2 separate regions of the Homo sapiens genome follow, and region 2 is linked to region 1. The links come from fine-mapping of genetic effects on gene expression. A gene starts in region 1. The other region holds a variant in brackets. All regions are shown on one strand. Distances are between the middles of the regions.

Region 1 (2,931 bases):
TCGGGAGGTCTATATAAGAAGGCCAAGCAATTGTTAGTAGTGGGTATTTGCAGCTATTATTTCATTGCATTTTTCTTACATTGAAAAAATCTTAAGTGTTTATATTCAAGACAAGAGGGGGACTAATGAATATCCTTAGAAGGAGGCACTAAATTTCCCCCAAGCTTCTCTTTTGTGCTGCCTTCACTCTAGAATCTTTCCGACCCATCCTCTCCAATCCATATATACTTTCATTTTCTCTCTTGTGAAATAAGCTATATTCTCTCAACTAATTTTTCTGCCCACTCGGATTACAATGATGCTCCTCTTTCATTGCACTATTATAAGCTATAGCTTGTGGCTGTCTTAATCTGCTGAACTAGACCTTATAGTGTCATCAGTATTCTCCATGCTATTGTCAATGGTATGGCTATCATGTGTGACTGACCTGGGTTCAGATTCTTGCTCAAACACTAACTAGTTTTGAGACCATCTACACCATTAATAAAAATATTACTCATAGAAATAGCTACCATTTACTGGACACGTGTTCTGTGAACATTATTGTCCTCAGTGCTTTATAAGCATTATTTTAATTCTTACTATGTCATCATGTGACAAGTATTATTAGATTCACTTTAAATTCATTTTTCTGGTAAAGACACTGAGTATCAGAAGTCTGAAACATATTTGAAATCACATACAACTGGTGAAAGTCAGAGCTGAATTTTTAACTCAGGTCTTTTTAATTCCAAAGCTCGTGCTCTCAAAAACAATTGTTTTACTGAAATCTACAAGTAATATAAACTTTCTGTGACCCAGTTTCCTCATCTATAAGACAGGATATGCGCTGTGTCTAATACCAGTAGCTGGCAGGCAATGCGTTCGAAATTGGTAACTTTTCATTTTTAGTAATAGTTATTGGGCATAGAAATGAGATTCACTGACTGTGATAAATATATCAGCACACTGATTAAACCATTTGACTAAAAACAAGTTATCTAACCTATATCAGGCAGAACGAAATACCCATTCTCTACGTATTTCCTGGGAATAAATAATTCTGAAATTCTACCGTCCTCCTCAGCCCACCATACCAACATCTAATCTAATTCTGCACATTGTGAGGAAATTACTCCCTGTGGGTGAGAAAGTCCAATTCATCTAGAGTCAAGCATTTTCATTGAACAAAACAGTTTTACTTACAGAGCCCATACAGCAGTTCGGCCTGTTCCTTTCAGGCTGACTCAGAAGGCTGAGGAGGCTTTAGATTCCAGGGGAGGGCCGAGCTTGCAAATATGAGGAGACTTATTCCAGCCTGACTGGAGACAGGCACAGAGCTGAAAGGCCAATTCCTGGTGGTGGTGCTAACTCACTGTGTCTTCAGGGTGTGGAGATTCCCAGAAGACTTCTTTTGCCTCATACAGTCCTTTTATATCTGTTCCATTATGCAATTACTTACGGTGGCTATGTGCTTTATGGGCTGATGTAACCTTTTTTTCATGTGTCATTTCACTCAAAAGCTTTTTTATTTAACAGCTTTATTGTTATATCATTCACATACTATAAAATTCACCCATTTATAGTGTATGATTCAATTTTTTTTAGTAAAGTCACAGAACTGTGCAAGAACCATCATCACAATTCAATTTTAGAACATTTTTTATTACCCTTAAAAGGAACCTCATAATCACTAGCAGTCACTCTGAAGGAGATTTTAAAAAACGAAATATTGTAGCAAATTGCTAAATGACATCTCCCATTATGAGTGAGAGTCCAACTCCACCCCTTAACTCCTCAGTATCTATGATTATTCACAGCAGTATGGTTTCATTAGCCCACCTGTGGTTCTTTGCAGCAGCAGTCTTTCTCTTACAGATAAAAAATAATTCATTTACTCATCCATACATATATCCAGTAAATATTTCATAAGAATGTCCCATATTCTAAACATTATACTCAGTGATAGAGTTTTTTTTTTTAAGAATACACCATAATTCTTACTGTTTAGGATTTTAGTGTAGAAGATAGACAGGTTAACCAATAATTACATGTTAACCAATGATAAGGTTATCCTAGAGGCATGAACCAAATGCTTGGTGAATACAGTAGGTAAAAATCTTGGTTCACAACTTACTTGTGTATAAAATACGGTTTCATTTACTTTTTTATAATTTGACCTATTTCGTATTTTGAAGTCCCAACCTACCAGGTTGAAGAGAATTAGTCACAATAATTTGGGGTTCTCTCTACTTATAGTCAAATTTTGAAAATCTTGTATTATACCAAGAAAAATTGCAGGTAGGTGGGTGATTGACTTGGCCAATGATGTCACCTTCTGTCAGTTTACTATCACTCTCATTAGTCTTTAATAAATAGAATGCATAGATTGCTATAAGTTGTCCATCTTTTCTCCTTATGGCCTCTTTAGATCCTTAGATATTCCCACCAATTTGGACCACACTTGGGCATATGGGTCTTTGATTCATTCTCAGTTTCTGTCTCTTACACCCTGCATTTAATCCATTGGTAAATTATGTCAATCTCTTTGAAAAATACAATCAGAAATTGATCACTGTTTATCATCTCCAGAAATGTCACCTTTATTTAAGTCACAATTATCTCTCACTTGGGTAACTTCAGTAGTTTCCTAACCATTCTCCCTGCTTCCGATATTATCTCCTCTCCACTATCAAATCTGTTTCACTACTGAAAATGTCATGGCCTGAGATATTTTCTTCTTCATAATGTAATAAAAACAATAAATAACAAGAACAATAATATTTTATTATGCATTCTACATCCATGATACTAGGCCAAGTGTTTGTGGTAGACAGGATAATGGCCCCTAAAGATACCTATGTCTTAATGCCTGGAACCTGTGAATATGTCACCTTACATTGCAAAGGGACTTTGCAGATGTGATTAAAGTTAAATAACTTGAGATGGCAA
Region 2 (2,931 bases), 26 kb before region 1:
ACATATTGGGAGATGTTTTCTCCTTTTCCATTTATTGGAAGAGATAGTGTAGAATTCTTCTTTTAATGTTTGTTAGAATTTTCTAGTGAAACAATCTGGACCTATGAATTTCTTTTTGGGGATTTTATAAACTAAAAATTCAATTCTTAATAGTTACAGGGTTACAAATTATATATTCATATTTTGGGAGTTGTGGTAGTTTGTGTTTTACTAGGAAGTGGTCCACTTTTCTGTATATAGAATTGTTTGTAGTATTTCCTCATTATTCTTTTGATGTACACAGAGTCTGTAATAATAACCTCCTTTTCATTCCTGATATTATTAATTCATGCCTTCTTTCTTTTTTCTCTGTTAGTCTTGCTAGGAGCTTATTAATTTTATTGATCTCTTCAAGGAATCAGCTCTGTTTCAAAGATTTTATTTATTTTTTTCTGTTTTTAATTTTATTGATTTCTTCTCTTATCTCTATCATTTCCTTCTACTTGCTTTGGGTTTTGTTTTGCTCTTCTTTTCCTTGGTTCTTGATGGCATAGCCTAGATTATTGATATGAGACTTTTCTTCCTTTTTAATATATTCATTTAAGCTACAAATGTTCTTCTCAGCACTGTTTTATCTGTGTTATACAAATTTTGGTATGTTTTATTTTCATTTTTATTCACGTCAAATTATTTTTTATTTCCATTGAGACTGCTTTTTGTTATCATTAATTATTTAGGAATTTCCAAGTTATCTTTCTGTGATTACATTGTATTGGAGAACATATTGCGTGTAACTTTTATTCTTTTTAAATTTGGTCTCCGTTGATACTGGTGGTGGGAGATTTATTACCACTAAGTGAAGATGGGTATTTTCTCCACATTTTCTTTATGATTACATGGTGTGAGGGTCCTCATTACTCTGGGGTGGCGGTGAATATCTTGATTCTCTACTAGGCCTCCTCTGCCATCATCCCATGGGGGATGGGATGGACATCTTATTACTGCCCAGTGAGGGTTGAAATCCAGGCACCCACATGGTTTCCACTGACACCATGGAGAAAGGGGCTACTCATTATTGGCTGGCAGGAATGACAGTCTCAACTGCCTATTCGACATTCTCTGATACCACCACCCTGAGGAGGGTGTTGGGTGCCTCATTACAGCCTCATGAGGTTGGAAGTCTGGGTTCTCCATTTGGCCTTTGCTGACATGAGTTGGGGGTCATGTGGTCACAGTTTGTTTTTTTTTCTGCAGTGTTTTGCCGGAGTAAAGTGGTTTTTTGAAATCTTCTGCCTTGCTAGGATTCCCCTTTCATTGGCTAGAGGGAGCAGGCTTTTGAGAGGGCTTTTACTATCTGTGCACATTAGCATTTCTGTGTTGTCAGTTTCTTCAGCTCCAAGTCAGATATATGAGGTAAGAAGAAAATTCAATCATTAAGGATGACCACTATGTCATTCCTCTATTTCATGATGTCATTCCTCATATCCCAAGCTCCTTAGATGGTCTGCCTCTTGTCTACCCTTGG[A/G]ATTTTGTGTTTGTTTTATACACAATGCCCAAGGTTTTTAGTTGTTCTTAGCAAATAAATAGAAACATGTTCTTAGCAAATAAATAGGAAAATATGTCTATTCTGTCTTCCCCAATGTGGGAGGAGTCTCCTTTAAGATTTTTAATTCATCTATTCAGCCTTGGCTACTGAGATAATTGTAAATCATTTAAAATCCCTGCAACTTCAATTCCCATTTCAGCCACTGCTATGGCTACCAGTTCTGTGCAGGTGCAGCCTGTCACAGGCTCATCTGGACCCTGGGGTTTCTCCTCTGATGCTCTGTCGTGGGGGCCCATGGGAACCCACTGAATACTCAAGCATAGGCAGTCTGCCAGTTTTGGGAGTTAATGCTCTGTGGAGCAATTCTTAACTAATTGAATACAGGAGGAATAATTACTTTTCATTTACTTCCCCCAGGAAGAAGATTATGGGCAAGTACTGCAAGAACTGGCAACAGTCTCATATTATGTGGACAACTCTACAATGCATGTTTGTTTGGGCTCTCCCTTTTCGCTGCTCCAAACTCCCTGTCCCTGACTTTTGCTTACTGGGTCCAGTCCCCAGTAGAGTAGCTGCTCTTAGGCTTTTGTCTTAGGAGAACTCAGGGGAACACGTGGCCTATGCTCTGGCAATAAAATCTTCTTGCATTGTCAGAAGTCACCTCACTATTTGATGTCTCCGTATACTCCCTCTGCTTTAATCTCACTTACTTCCCCCAAACCTCAATCTGGCCCCTGTTTAAATGTCACCTGTTCATGAAGCTTTCCTTCATCTCCACAACAAAGCTGGTTTCTCCCTTCTCTGTGGCTGCTGTACCTTGTTTATTCCTCCATGGGCGCACTGAGGGCTCTCAATACATTTGGTTTTATATCTGATACTCATTGTAATATCCACTATTTTTTTTTTGTTTCTTTTATATTTTAGGTCCTCAAACATTGCCAAACATTGTCAATCATTCTTGAAGGTTTAACATTAAATGATATTAAGAAACGGACACTGGGCAATAACTTTAGCACCAGCTGGGAGAATTGGTGATGATTATAGTCGGAAAGAATCCCAAATATGTGATGCTGGTAATCTCTGGTCATAAATACATATTGAGTGTAAATCTTTTCTTACAATAATAAAATGCCTAAGGAAATATCTATCCCCAGACACAAACACATTTACGTTCTTCTCTTATTTCTTATCAATCTAGTCTGGGATAGATGATGTGCTGCTCAGAGATGGGGGCTAGATGAAATTACTGGGGGATGGGAGCTGTCCTATTTATTGGGCAACCTCAGACTGTGGCTCTCCGGGGGAATTGGCCACCTAAACTGGTACCCTCCACTGACCAGGCCAACATAAACATGGCTGGGAAAAGGGCAATGTTTTTATGGTCCTTAGTCCCTGGAGACCCTGTT

Direction of the effects. Alleles are on the strand shown, and positions count from the first base shown. SD is a standard deviation of normalised expression in the study named.
With allele A in place of G in region 2, the expression in left ventricle of the gene that starts at base 1,386 in region 1 is higher (small effect, 0.39 SD a copy in GTEx).

Evidence for each region.
Region 2: its variant is fine-mapped to the expression of OR51E2 in left ventricle (GTEx, PIP 0.97).

The regions. Positions count from the first base shown.
Region 1 is chr11:4,696,468-4,699,398 of GRCh38, forward strand. OR51E2 (olfactory receptor family 51 subfamily E member 2) reads right to left here and starts at 1,386. Exons shown (of 2, transcript NM_030774.4): 1 at 1,186-1,386. OR51C1 (olfactory receptor family 51 subfamily C member 1) reads right to left here and starts at 1,386. Exons shown (of 2, transcript NM_001396051.1): 1 at 1,186-1,386. The coding sequence starts at 1,194.
Region 2 is chr11:4,670,079-4,673,009 of GRCh38, forward strand. LOC105376528 (a long non-coding RNA gene) reads left to right here. Exons shown (of 3, transcript XR_930990.3): 3 at 1,943-2,181. Among named protein-coding and RNA genes, the nearest start is that of OR51C1, 26 kb to the right of the region's middle. The variant A/G (reference allele first, on the strand shown) is at 1,505.